3 linked regions of the Homo sapiens genome follow. The protein of the gene in region 1 interacts with the protein of each later gene in a biochemical or structural test. Each region holds a gene or a part of one and is shown on either strand. Other genes may lie near its edges.

Region 1 (4,444 bases):
TCTCGGCTCACCACACTCTTCCTTGGGCTCATCCGAGCCATCCCCACAGTCATCCTCTCCGTCACACTTCCAACGCGCTGGGATGCAGCGGCCCGAATCCTTGCAGCGGAACTCGTCCACACCACAGGTCATCTGGGCTGCAAGCGGGTGGGCATGGGGTGAGGATGAGACTCCTTCCAGGAGTGTGCCGGGAGGGTGGGGAGAGTGAGGGAGCAGCCACTGAGGGGGTCACACGTCGGGGTGGTGTGAGCAGCAGACACTGGGGAGGGAAGCTGGGCTCCAGGCCAGGCAACTCACTGCAGTTGGCGGGCTCATCACTGCCATCCACACAGTCATTGTCCCGGTCGCAGACCCAGACCCGGGGGATGCACCGTTTGGTAATGGAGCACTGGAACTGGTTGGGGGCGCAGGTCACCTCGGCTGTGGGGTGGGCAAGAGAATGAGGGCCCTCCCTTACACCTGCCACTCCAGTTCACCATCACTGTCTTCTCTCTCTTCCAAGCCCTGGCCTTGGTCCTGCCAGCAACTTCTTCGGAGGAAGGAACAGTTTATCCCCAGTTTTGGTGCTTTTTGTTTTCTGGATCTCTATGTCTCTATATCATGCATGATGATTTTTATGAGCAAAGCAAGTTACACCCAATATAATTTGTGTTGCCCATCTACTAAAGTTATTTGAGAGCCTCTCAAAGCTGTGGGGAGATTCTGCCTGCCCTGCTTCCGTGTCATCTCCCACCACCGGCCCACCACCACCTCTGACACTCACGGCAGTCCCTCTCATCCTCCCCATCTCCGCAGTTGTCCTGCCCATTGCAGCGGAAGATGCCGGGAATACAGCGGTTGGTGTTGGTGCATTTGAACTGACTGGGCAAGCAGACGTGGATGTCTGTGGAGGGAGGAGGAGGTGATTCGTGGCGAAGGGAGGACTCAGGGGCAGGGAGAGGGTGCCCATCCCTCAGCAGGGAGGACACAGGCTTGAGCCATAGGAATCCAGCCTGGAGAGCAAGCTGCCGTGGGCTGCAACTTCCCTGCACTTGAAAGCCCCAAATCCTGGGGCAGGGAAGATGCTGGGGAAGGAGGGAGGGTGGGCGGGCAGCGCCTTACCACAGTTGGCCTCGTCACTGTTGTCCTGGCAGTCATTGTCGCCATCGCAGATGAAGGCAGGGTTTGTGCAGATACCTGTGGAGCACTGGAACTGTCCGGGCCGGCACTTGAACTCAGCTGCCAGAGAGGGAGGCTCAGAGTCAGAGCGGCTGGGGTGGACACGGCCAGGTCCACTTGCAGGGCACCACAGCCCCAGCCTCTCCAGTGGCCATTCAAAGCCTCAGGAGTCAGGCCTCCGACACAGCTGGGGGCCCTCCTGTCACCCCCAGCAGGCACTCACGGCAGTCCGGGGGCTCGTCTGAGTGGTCCCCGCAGTCGTCCTCGGTGTCACACTTCCACCAGAAGGGGATGCACTTGTCGTTCTTGCATACAAACTGGAGGGCAGGTGGGGGCAAGAGGGGTTGGTGGGGGTCTGGGGGACTCAGAAGTCTTTCTTTTGAGGGGCTTGGATGTTTCAAAGAAGTTGAGGCAGGGGTCAGGGTGTTATGGGGCAGGTTGGGCTATGGTGAGTTCGGAAAGGCCAGGTATGGGGCTGCGTGGGATAGGGTGGGGAAGGCAGCACTGAAGCATGGCAAGGAGGGTCAAGGTTAGGGTGTGGAGGTGTCTGTGTGAGGTGACGGGGGTAAAAGTATTGCTGTGGGGAGACAAGAGGTAGGCAAGAAATGTGGGGGTGTTAGTGTGGGAAAACCAGATGCATGAGGACATTAGGACAGAGCAGGTGTTGGGGTCCAAGGAGGATTTGGGGGTTGGGGAGCGGGCACTGGTGATGGGGTCTGGGGGACAGCCTCACCTGGCTAGCCGTGCAGTTGGACACACAGGTGCGCCCATCGCTGCCCAGGTAGAAGTTGGTGGGGCAGGCACATTTGTGCCCTCCCCCGGGGGACAGCAGGCACAGGTTGCTGCAGCCACCATTGTTGACCTTGCAGGGGTGATTGGGCACTGCCAGAGAAAACGTCGTGAAATATGGTGACATTTTCTGGCCTACCAAAGGCTGCCTCACTCACTCTATCCTGGACAGAGGCGGGTGGGTCTGAACCCTGCCTCTTTTAGGAGGGAGCTGAAGCTGGAGATAGGAGAGGATTCTAAGGTCCCAGGATCAGGCCAGGCCTGAAGGCCAGCTCCCCACCTCCTCTGTGCTTCCCTCCCAGGGGCCGGCCTGCCTTCCTTCTGGGGGCTGGGCACCCAGACCCCCACTTGACTGGCCTCAGGGACTTGCTGCTGCCAGACTCCAGGGCTGGATCCAGGCCGGGCTGAAGCTCCCGGGAGCCAGACCATCCCCTGTCTAGACCCTCCTGGAGTCTCCCAGTGTCTGGCCAGGAGGGCTTGGTCAATGCTAGAGAAGGGATGAGCAGGAACTCCCAGGGACCCCGGTGCCTGGCTCACCGTTCGCCTGCTCCCACCCCTTGCCTGCTCACCGTCTGGCTGGCGCAGGGCATGGAAGACATGCAGGTCCATGGGCCGGTGCAGCGTGCTGATGAGGAGCGTTTTGTTGGTGCCCGTGGTCTTGTGGGCTCGGTTAATGGACTTTGTTTCCCAGTCGGTCCAGTAGACGTAGTCCTCAAACAGGGTCAGTGCAAAGATGTGCGGGATGTCCTGGCTCAGCACTGCAGGGCCAAGGGGCAGGCACAGTGCCAGTCAGCCGGAGCTCGGACAGGGTGCCGGCCCACTCCACCTCCTCAAGCCCTACCACCACCCTGAGAGGTGGGTGTCAGCCCCAGTTACAGATGGTTCATGGTACAGACCCCCCATGGTCTCACAGCTAACAAGTGTCAGAGCTGGAGTTCAAACCTAGACTGCCTCATGGCAAGTTCCTGCCCTGCCAGTGTATGGCTCCCCTCGGGAAGTGGGGAGCACTGCAGTTCTCAATCGCAGGCCTCCCACCCCCACCCTCCTTGGGGCCAGTCCTCCAGAACTGTGTATACAAGGGAAGGGCCTCTCCTCTTCCTTCCCAAGGGAGCTGGGTGGTGGCCAGGCTGGGGAAGCCCCCGGGGTGCTCTGAACCCCACACCCCAGTGAGTGGTGTCCTCAGGCCATATCCTCCGCTTTTTATGTCCACTCTTGCCCCCAAAACTTGATCCCCTGTCGCTTCAGACCTCCATCCCCACTGAGTCTGCTGTGCCTGGACAGCCTCACTGGCACACTGACCAACGTGGCGATTGGAGCCATCCAGGCTGGCAAATTCAATGTAGTCCTCGCGGGCGTCGGCCCAGTAGATGCGCTCAGTGACATAGTCCAGCGTCAGGCCATTGGGCCATGTGATCTTGGTGTCCACGATGACGCTGCGGCTGGACCCATCCATGCCGATGCGGCCGATCAGTGAATGGTCACCCCAGTCTGTCCAGTACAGGTACCTGGCGATGGGTAGGCAGTGAGCCCTGGGAGATCCCGTAACCCATCGCACCAGTGGCCTGCAGGGAGGCTGGGCTTGGATGCTGCTTTCAGGGGCTCCCCCAACCCTCCTCAGCCACATACCCATTCTGCACATCCACCACCAGAGCCCTGGGCTCACGGAGGCCAGAGCTGACCAGCACCGTCCGATAGGCCCCATTGAGCTTGGACACCTCGATGGTGTCCCGGCCTTTGTCGCACCAGTACAGGTTGCCACCCACCCAGTCCACAGCCAGCCCATCGGGGTTGCTGAGGCCTGTACGGTGTAGGACCTGCAGGAAGGGGCAGGGGAGGGAGAGCTCTGGGTGACCTGGGGGAGGACCTGCAAGCCTCTGTGAGGCTCAGCCTCCCCTCGTGTAAAATGGGGTAGAGCTCCCTCTGACAGCTCTGGTGGGAGAACCATGGAAGTAAAATGCCCAGTCCTGGGCCTGACACTGTGTAGGTGTCAGCAGAGGCTCTAGGAGAGGGGGCTCTAGGTGAATGGGACCACGCCCCAAGCCTCACAGTGCTTGGCCAGACCTCACAGGGAACTTCCTGATGATTAAGGAGACATGAGGCTGGCAGCGAGGGGAAGGGCAAGAGGAATCTCCCAGTCCTTGCTGTCTGGGCCCAGAGGAGAGTGAGCAGCTAGAACAAGCAGTCATATAGTGACTAGTGGAGTGAGAAGGAAGCAATTTGGGTTGGTGGGGCGGGAAGGAGAGACGATCTGAAAACAGTCATCTGAGGCGGGCCAGTGTTGGTCGCCGAGGGCCGCCCGCCTCACCTGCACATTGCTCCCGTTAAGGTGCATCCTTCGGATCATGCTGCCCTGGGTGGTCACATCTGTCCAGTAGATCATCTGCTCTCGGTAGTCAAAATCCAAGGCAACGGCGTTGTTCAGGCCCTGGATTTGGGGAGTGAAGGACAGCAGAAGTCGGTTGTGGCAACAGGGGCCACATTTGCATCTGGGGGAGGG
Region 2 (5,221 bases), on another chromosome or scaffold:
CACCCACAGGGCAGATGCTCCTGCACTGAAAACCTTCCCCTACCTGAGAACCCCCCCATACAGACAGCCCCCCCACTAAGAACCCCTCCCCACACTAAAAGTCCCTCCCCGAATAATCAGAACCTCTCCCCCATCCCAGAATCTCTCCCCCATATTGACAGCTCCTCCCTCCCTGCTGATAACACCTCCCCACAGCCTGCCCACCGGGAACCCCTCCCCCAACACACACCCCAAGAACCTCTCCCTACACCACCAAGAACCCCTCCTCCGACATTGAGAACCCTGCCCCCACACTGATGACCCCACTCCCCCAAACTGAGACCCCCTACACACATTGAGACCAGCTCCCACACTGATAACCCCACTCCCCCAGACTGAGAACCCACACACACATTGAGACCCCTTCCCCCACACTGAGACCCCTGCCCTGGACTAAGCCCCAAGAGCCCTGCCTGGGCAGGCGTTGGCTCTGGCGAGGACAGCGTGGCAGCCCCAGAAGACCCGCCTCACGTTCCTCTGCAGCCAGGTCTGGAAGGGCCTTGAAGCCGCTTCTCACTCTTGTCCCCTCCTTACCGTTGGGCCCAGGTGGTCCTGCCTTCCCAGGAGGTCCAGGGGGGCCACGTTCTCCTGCAATTTCCAAAGACACTGACTTGAGGAAAACTGCCCAGCCCAGGATCAAAGGGCCCACCCTGGAGCTGGCGGCTGTCATTTCCAATCATGACCATGACCCTGCTCGTGCTACGACGTGACTGTGGCCCCGCCCAGGCTTGCCCATCCTGCACCAGAAGGTTCTAGATCCAGGACCCAGGCCTCACGGGGCTCTCCTGTTCACTCAGGGGCCGGGAGCTGGAAATCCAGAGACCATGGGTAGAATCTCGGCTCTTTTCCTTCCAAGTGTGAGAACAGAGCGAAATCCCTGGACTCTCTGAGCCTCAGTTTCCTCATCTGAGACAGGTGGAGAAGAGTGTCATGGCCTCCGTGTTGAGGTGGGAAGGTGGAGGGACACAGAGCTTGAAGTCGTGCCAGCGGCCGAGCAAAGCTGGTATTGGATCAAGGACTAGGAGACAGAGCTACAGAAGCATGTCCAAATGTGAGCTCATGAAATAGCTAAGAAAGACGCTCCCTCCATGTCAGAACCCTGTTGGGCCCTGGGAGTCAGTTCTTTTCCTGGCTCTTGCAGGGGCCTGACCCAGCTCTCGATCTAGGAACCATGGTGGGGGTGTTGCCCAACTCAGCATCTGGTTTCAAAAAGAGCAAGAGCCAGTGCCCCCAGCCATGCCTGCACCTACCTCTCTTTCCATTGGTGCCTGCCTCTCCCTTGGGCCCAGGGGCCCCAGGCAGCCCCGGACAGCCTCGGAGAATGGTGAGCTTGTCAGAGCCCTCCAGGCCCACCATCTTCACCTCTGCAGAAAAACACAGGTGGCCACTCAGTGTCACCTGGGCCTGAAGACTCCACTGAGCCATAGATATACCACTCAACTGAAAGGCATCTGCCATCTTGGTGACATCAGGACTGGGCAGATGGCTATAGCCACAGCCACCTCCCTCAGCTGGAGGGTCACCTGGAAGGGAGGTTTTCCTGCCCTGGTGGGCACTTGGTCTGTCCTCACCTCTTGGGCACTGGTCAGGCAGAAAGGTGATTTGGGGCAGAACCCTGGCCTTGGAGGCTACCCTGCCTGAAGGCAAACCTTACTTCCTCAGTACTGTGTGTCCTGAAACAAGTCCCTTAACCCCTCTGAGCCTCTGTTCCCTTACCTACCGAGGGGTGCAGGTTCATTTCAGCTCCTACCATTTAAGACAGCATCCTAATCTCGTCTGTTCTCATCTATCATATCATTGTAATCAATATCGGGTGAGAAGGACACAGGGAGAGAGGCTACCATTGCAACTCCCACGCCTGATCTTGGAGCAGATCTGAGAGTGGATGGGCTCCTGTGGGTCCACCTTGTTCCTCCACAGAGGGAGGCGTCCTTCAAGGACACTGAACAAGTTGGTGCGAAACTAGAGCTGGAATGCAGCTTGTTGTTTTTAATTAGATAACTCAAATTCAAGTGAGTGTGTTACAAAAATAACACGTGCTATTATTTGATCATTTAGAAACTCTAGAAGTATTTAAGGAAGAAAATAATGCCACCCTAACCCCACCACTCCACAACGAGCCACTAGGAGTTTCCAAGCGAATCCCCGCTGTTCCTGGCCTGTGTCACACTTCACGCCACGGATTGCTCCTTGAATGCGATGCTAGTCACAGCACACCGCAGAGCTCTGTGTCTCACATGCATTCCAGAAATCCTGACACGAATCTCTGCAAGCATCAGGAGCATCACAAATTCCTGACCCTGCATCCCAGCCCCGGGTAGACGGAGTCAGGACCTGACTCCAGAACCTGCATTTTCAACCTGCCCTCGCATGCGCCGGAGCCCATGGTTTGGCACCCGAGTGTCCCCTCGGGAGCCCCGAAGGAGGTCCAGAACTCACGGGGACAATGCCACCCTTATTGTGCCGCATCAGGGACACCATGGGAACTGCCATCTCCAGAGCCCAGCAGGTCCTGGATGGAAAGGTCCTGCAGTGCTCATCCCCGCCTGACACCCTGTCTTTCCGGGTGCTTATCCCCACCTCACACCCTGTCTCTCTGTGATGGCGACCATGGCAGAATATCTGACTGGTGTCTACCCAGCTGGCACCACAAGCCTCACCTCCCCACACAACACCATGACTACGCTTTTTACGCTTAGAGGGGGACATGTGGCCCAGGGAGACTGGAAACCTGCCTCGGTTTCCATTATGGGAGGGCAAGCAGAGGAAGCTCCGTCTCTGAGATGCCACATCCATTCGGGGCCTCTGCGTTTGTTCACATAAGATGAGGCATGCAGAGCTGCTGTCTCGTTAGACGATGCTCCACACGGCCTGGTGCAAGGCCTGGAAGCCAGGAAGCCACCAATCACGAAGCTGCCAGCTTTCAGGGACGAGAAGTTTCCAGGAGGAGGCCCTGGAGTGCCCTTACCTGGACAGGTGTCTGCCGCCTGGAGAGCCCAGGCCATGCCCAGGAAAGAGAGCAGCAGGGTGGCAGCGCCCAGGACCCCCACAGCTCTGTCCAGCTCCATCTCTTCTGGTCTTTGCTTCAAAAGGTGCCTGCCCTCTTATAGGGCTAGAGAAGCCAGCCTCCCTCAGACTCCAATTTCTCATCTTCCGAGTGACAGCCGCTTCCTCTCCGCGGGCTTGGTGACGCCAGCAGGAGGTGCGAGATCATCTCCAGGGCTGCTCCCTACCCCCCGCCCCTTGGGGATCCCATGGCGACTGTCATCCCTGCAGGGGGACGGTCTCCTTCCAGGGAACAGGCTGACTTGCTTGTGGCCTTGGGCAAAGAGCCCAGGCCCATCCTCCCACCTTTGTTCAGCGGTGAGCAGATGTCACCATGAGCTGAGAACGGGGAACAAGGAAGGGTTTGCTAAAGATGTTCTGCTTCAAAGAGGTCTCTCTCCCTTATCCGAATACCTAGAGTCCTCATGGCCAGGGCTGGTCATGGGCCACTGGTGTGGGCCTTACACAGTAACCCTCACCACATCATGAGCAGACTTGGGACTCTCCTCAGGAGGCTTGGAAACTGCCACTATGAGGTCCAGGCAGGCTGCCAGGGTGAAAAGGAGAGGAAAATGCGTGTGTGTCCACTGTTTCCTGGGGCAGTATGTAGAGCACAGGGGCACATGAACAGGAGGGAAAGGAGAGAAGAGTGGGGAGCCTGGGGGACTATGACCCAGGTACACATCTGAAGGGGAGACCTTGAGTGTGAATGCAGGGGCTTAGCCTGTAGGGAGGATGAGAGTAGGTGAATTTCACTCCTAGGGCCCAGGGAACCCCCTGAGCCCTGAGGCCAGACATCCCACCTGTAGGATGGCTGTGGACTTACTTCAGTGGTTGTGTTCGCCTTTTGGAGAAGAGCTGGCCTGAAGGTGCACTCTCGCCTTGGACTGAGCCAGGTTAGAGACAGAGACAGTAGCAGGTGGGGCCCCAGAGGCCGTATACCTAAAGCCCCCAGAGACGGAACCAGCACTGCACCTCCCACTACCACCACCGCACCCTGCCACCTGCTGCCATCGGGATGCCGAGGTGCCTTCTTCCTTGGCAAGATCAGTAGAAGGATTTTAAACTGTGACCCCAGCCCAGCAAAGCCACGCGAGAAACAAAATCCCATCGGATTTTCCTTCAATGCCCATGGAGATGTGTGGTCCTGAGACTATGACTAGTTAAGACCCCCCTCGGGTTCCGTGGTGTTTAGGGCAGACCTCTCAAGACTTAATTAAGGCTATGCCAGATGCAGATGAGGTCCAGGGATGAACCTGGGGAAGACACAGGCTCCATGGAGATGCAGATATGGAACCTAGAAAGATGGCTTGGGGGCATCTTCCTCAAAGTCCTGAAGTCACCTGCAGAGGAGCCAGGTCCCCAGAGCTGCCCAGTGAAACCCCAGCAGCCAAAATTCCGAGTCCTTAGGCAGGTTCCTTTACTGCATGCTATTTGTCCTTCCTAATAGAAGCATCTTTCAAACCTAGATGACTTAAAATTAAGTCTAGAAGGCTTTAAAAGCCCAAAGACATTATATTAATATTTTAGTGTTCAGAAATCTAAAAAAATATGCTATTTAAAGTACTTGCAATAATCAAGAGAATCTGGCCTATTGGAGTGGGTGCAGGATAACTTCAACAGAAAATGGCCAATTGAGTAATTGATTTGGCAGAGTGCATTTATGCGGAAAACTTACCGAATTCATATAAACTATTGAATCACTTTATTGGAACTCTGAGTTTATCACATGCTGAATTTAAATGATTACATTTCTAGCAGTTCATATTCAGAAGGATTTTTTAAAGTTAGACAAGGTACTAAAGGATAAATGTGGTTCTATTAAATGTATAAATGCAGTAACAATGTTTGAAGGTGTTTAGTTGGCTAAGTTAAGGAATGGACCAAGAATTATTCACAGGCTCCTTATAGGTGGTTATTAAAAGATAGAATAATAAGGTTTATAAGTCACACTTTTAAAATGAAGGCAGAATGCAGCTTTTAAAGTACACTTTTTTTTTTGAGACGGAGTTTCGCTCTTGTTGCCCGGGCTGGAGTGTAATGGCACAATCTTGGCTCACCACAACCTCCGCCTCCTGGGTTCAAGCGATTCTCCTGCCTCAGCCTCCCGAGTAGCTGGAATTACAGGCAGGCACTA
Region 3 (4,444 bases), on another chromosome or scaffold:
TATCTACTAAAAATACAAAAAAATTAGCTGGGTGTGGCTTAGCTACTCGGGAGGCTAAGGCAGGAGAATCGCTTGAACCCGGGAGGCAGAGGTTGCGGTGAGTTAACATCATGCCATTGCACACCAGCCTGGGCAACAAGAGCGAAACTCCGTCTCAAAAGAAAAAAAAATGTCCTCACTTGATAAAATATAAATTCGCAACAACTTTGTTATTCATGTAAAATGCTCTTTGTTTTGGCCTGTGAAATATTGTTTGAGCCTGCTGGGTCTTGAAGGATGAGGAGGAGTTTGAGTGGCTGAGTGGTGGGCAAAGCAAACAGTGCATGCAAAGGCCCAGAGGCACAAGAGGCCATGGTGTGTTTGTGAAGTAGAGAAAAACCTTGTGTCGTTGAAGCCTAGAGCTATGGGAAGGGATCAGCAGGAGGAGAGGCTGGGGCACTCTGGGGCTTCCACACCGAGAAAGGCCTTGCCTGTGCCTCCCGGGTTTTATACCTGTGGTATCAGTGGGCCTCAGACTTGGACTGGGGAACAATCTCACCAGCTGTGTGTTTTTGGATCCAATGCCTGGCAGTGTGAAGGGTGGGGTTGGTGTCACGGAAGCCTGGGAGGAAGGCCTTCCTCGCACATGTGCAGACCTTCCTGGATATCTTGGGCCATTTCTGAGTGTGTATGGAGTTTGGGGTGAAGTTTTGGATGCAGAGCTCCCTCCCTCAACCCAAATGGGTCCCAGACTAAAACATACACGTTTCACAAATGTGGAAACGGAGGCACTAACGTGGCTGATGAATTACAGCAAATTAAGGCTGTGATTCTTCACTCCTTAACTCGCCCAAATTGGACTTTGTAAATTATAGATTAAAAAATAAGACTCTTTCTTGCTAGAAAAGTCCATCTTTTAGTCCCATTTGGCACACCAACATGAGGTATTCGTTTGAGGGCAGGCAATAGGAATTGAGGCTATAATTTGCTCTGAATTCTCTGGAACAGCAATCCATGACATTGGTCATGTTTGAAAGAATGTCACAAGTCCTCTCATGAGCGCTGATCCCTCACAATAAGTGTTGGGGTGTTTTAATGATGAGCCTGTTGGAAAAGCAGGTCCTTGTTGGATGCCCCTATGGAGTGGAGATCAGTGTGTGAGTTATTAGGCATGGTTACCTGTGATTCTCCCAATCTTGTGCGTTCCACCGATGGAACTGCCGGCAAATCCTGACACGTGTGCACCCAGGCTGTACCCAATTAGGTGAACATGGCTTCGAGAGAGTTGCACAGATTCCTGGAAGACAGCAGCGGGATGGGGGCAGGAGAAGAGCTGCCTGGATGAAAGCCTTTTGCGGTCCAGTGTGTTGTGGCGCCCACCCTGTTCTTCGTGCCTGCTCAGAAATGAGGTGCCTTATTCACACTCCAAACTGAAACTAATCTCTCAACTGGCTGACTCTCCTGGGACTCAGGTACCTGTGACCTCGCCTTGTAGCTGCAGCCTCCTGCCTGCCTGTCTTCCCCTGGACACTAATGCCCTACAGAAGTGATCCCACTCATTTGTGTGGGGGCTTGATAGCTTACAGGGTGTGTTTGTATCCCTTAGCATGTCTAAGGGGGTGAGCATAAGAGGAATAGTGGATGAGGAGAGGGGAGAAGGTGGTTCTGTGAAACAGGGGTTCAAGGGAGGCGTCTGAGAGAGCCCTGGGGTCTGGTGTCAGTCCTGTGCCTTCTCATTCCTGTGAGCTGAGCATTAGTGCTTCTCCTGCCTGGGCTGCTGTTGGAGACCAGCTTAATTCATTCACTCTCAGAGGAAGGGAAAGGAGGGAAGGGAGGTGAAGGAAGGATGGGGCAGGTCGGTACCTCCAGCCACCGGAGAAGAGCCGCGACCTCCTTGCCCACAAGGCGGGTGTTGCGGACGGCGATGGTGTAGTGGTCGTGGGCCAGGGTGATCCAGTCCACCAGCCCCACGTTCACTGGCTGGGCCGGCTGAGACTTCAGCGCGGCCACCATCTGCCAGATCCAGTTTTCTAGCACGCCGTCCACCTGAGGAGGGGACAGAGGGAGGGTCGCACTAGTTTCCTTTCTCCCCGCTCACCCTTCTTCCTTCTCCAGCTCCTGGATAATGCTGGAGGAAGGGCTTGCTATGACGTTTCTCAGCCATGCACAGTTGACATTTTGGGCCAGAGAATTCCTTGTTGTGGGGGCTGTCTTGGGCATTGTACGATGTTTAGCAGCATTCCTGGCCTTCACCAACTAGATGCCAGCAACACCCACCCACTGCCCCAGGTTTTGAAAACCAAAAATGTCTCCAGATTTTTCCAAACGTTCCCCCCCGCCCCCTCCCGAGAACAATTATCTTAATGTTTTTCCTCTTAGGGACTTTCTAAACCTTAAAACAGTGGAGAAATATGTGTAAATCAGGTCCTGGAAGCTGACCTGTCCCTTAGGGCCATTTGTACGCCTCCTTCTGCGTGCAGCTGCCCCACCTCACCCCTAAACCCATAGCACTGGCTCTGCCCTGCAGACTGCGTTATGCTGGACTTAGCGGGATGGGCACTGTGAGCCTGACATAGTAGGAGGTAAAAAATGTTTACAGAGAATTGTTCTGTGTGTGTGCCTTGTTTGAGAACCAATTTGCAGGGCACTCCTAATGGATTTACAGAGCAAAGACACTTGTGCTGGGCCTTAAAGGATCAATAGGAGTCCAGTAAGACGAATATGGGTGGGGGCTGGGCGCGGTGGCTCATGCTTGTACTCCTAGCACTTTGGGAGGCCAAGGCAGGGGGATTGCTTGAGCCTAGGAGTTTAAGACCAGCCTGGGGAACATGGTGAAACCCCATCTCCACAAAAAATACAAAAGTTAGCCAGGTGTGATGGTGCATGCCTCTAGCCCCAGCTACTCCAGAGTCTGAGGTGGGAGGATGGCTTGAGCCTAGGAGGTCGAGTCTGCAGTGAGCTGAGATCACACTGCCCTCCAGCCTGGGCGATAGAGTGAGACCCTATCGCAACAAAACAAAACAAAGAAACAAAAAGAATACAGGTGGGCAGGTGAATGTGGTAGTGGTGAGGTCTAGGGCATCCCAGGCAGAAGGAACAGTGCGTGCAGAGTCACAGAATCATGAAAGGGCAGTGTGGTATGTCAGGGGAGAGGAGGAAAGTTGGTGAGGTGAAGGCTAGACAATAGGAGGTGAAGGCTTGACAATAGCGGGTGAAGCTGGAGAGCTCCCCTGAGGGCCTGTCATGCCATTCCAGGGTAAGATGCATTCCTTTACTAGATATTTACCAAGTGCCTTCTATGTGCATGGAGCATCTTGGGTTCAAATCTAGGCTCTCCTAGTTTCTAGCTGAGTAACCTTGGGCAAGTTATTTTTCTCTGTGCTTCAGTTTTCTCACCTGGAAAATGGGGTTAATAATGCTCTCCTTCCAGGATTGTTATGAAGGAGAAATACGTTAATAGATCTAAAGCGCTTAGAGCAGTGTCTGGAACATAGTAAGGACTCAACAAATGTTCGTTACTGCAGTTGTTGTTGTTATTAATATTAGCAGTAATAGGAGGAGGAGACATATACTAGGTTGGACAGAATTTTGATAATGAAGAGTGCATTTTGGTAAAAGCATCCTGGTAAGAGGCTCCTGTGGTCCTCATGTTGCATTTATAAACAAGACTCATTCATTTGATCTTTAATTCAGTTAACAAACATTTTGGAGCACTGATTACATAATGGATAGTGGCCCACAGTAGTCTATTAGATGAGAATAGGACAGAATCCTTCCCAGGGAGAAGCTTACGGCCTAGCAGAGCAGAGAAACACAGACAATTAGAAAGCCGAGCTGCAGAGCAGTGGTGGAGAGTGCTCAGGGCCACACGGGAACTCCCGGTGACACTGAATGCCCTGTGGGAGTGCTGGGATGAAGGCAGCAATGGCTTGCAGGAGGACCTGTTTGGGACTGTGTCTTACAGGAAAAGTGGGAGTTAATCAGGAAAAGAGGAGGAGAAAGAACACTCTAGGCAGAGGGCACAGACTAAGCCAAGACCAAGAAGAGAGAAGGCAGGTGCATGGGGTGTGGAGGAAGCTATTAATACAAGCAGTTAGATGTTGCTGGAACGTCATGTGGGAGGCAGGGAGAGGTGAGGGGAGGCAGGTGATGGAAGGGTTCATTTTCCTCTCCAGGATAGGATAGATGGGGGTTTCAAGAGTACTTTTCAACTAGATGGCAGGGAAAGGTTTCTAAGTCATGAAGTAGACACCAAAATCTCTGGAGGGTTCAAATTGTGAACTATGCTTGAAATCATGGGTGGGCTAGACACTGGGGAGGCAGGATTTCCTCTTGGAGACAAGTTCTCACATGGTTTGACTTCATCTATTGCCAATAATATCCTTTCTCTCCTTCTTCCATAGTAATAGAATTTTTAGCATCACTAAAAGGCTACATTTTCTTTAACAGCCTATACTTCTCAGCC

The links. Proteins that work in one complex are often made in the same cells at the same time.
Region 2: the proteins of LRP1 (region 1) and FCN2 form a complex in vitro, tested with the Homo sapiens proteins (one study listed by IntAct).
Region 3: the proteins of LRP1 (region 1) and LIPC form a complex in vitro, tested with the Homo sapiens proteins (one study listed by BioGRID).

Annotation. Positions count from the first base shown.
Region 1 is NC_000012.12:57,197,473-57,201,916, reverse strand, and holds part of LRP1 (prolow-density lipoprotein receptor-related protein 1 preproprotein), read right to left. Parts: intron 4,373-4,444; coding exon 4,253-4,372; intron 3,762-4,252; coding exon 3,574-3,761; intron 3,453-3,573; coding exon 3,247-3,452; intron 2,706-3,246; coding exon 2,517-2,705; intron 2,041-2,516; coding exon 1,892-2,040; intron 1,476-1,891; coding exon 1,382-1,475; intron 1,219-1,381; coding exon 1,102-1,218; intron 884-1,101; coding exon 764-883; intron 421-763; coding exon 298-420; intron 138-297; coding exon 12-137; intron 1-11. UniProt on the Homo sapiens protein: Endocytic receptor involved in endocytosis and in phagocytosis of apoptotic cells. Required for early embryonic development. Involved in cellular lipid homeostasis.
Region 2 is NC_000009.12:134,878,708-134,883,928, reverse strand, and holds the start of FCN2 (ficolin-2 isoform a precursor), read right to left. Parts: upstream 3,120-5,221; 5' UTR 3,108-3,119; coding exon 3,008-3,107; intron 1,404-3,007; coding exon 1,290-1,403; intron 628-1,289; coding exon 574-627; intron 1-573.
Region 3 is NC_000015.10:58,539,366-58,543,809, reverse strand, and holds part of LIPC (hepatic triacylglycerol lipase precursor), read right to left. Parts: intron 2,026-4,444; coding exon 1,843-2,025; intron 1,277-1,842; coding exon 1,159-1,276; intron 1-1,158. UniProt on the Homo sapiens protein: Catalyzes the hydrolysis of triglycerides and phospholipids present in circulating plasma lipoproteins, including chylomicrons, intermediate density lipoproteins (IDL), low density lipoproteins (LDL) of large size and high density lipoproteins (HDL), releasing free fatty acids (FFA) and smaller lipoprotein particles.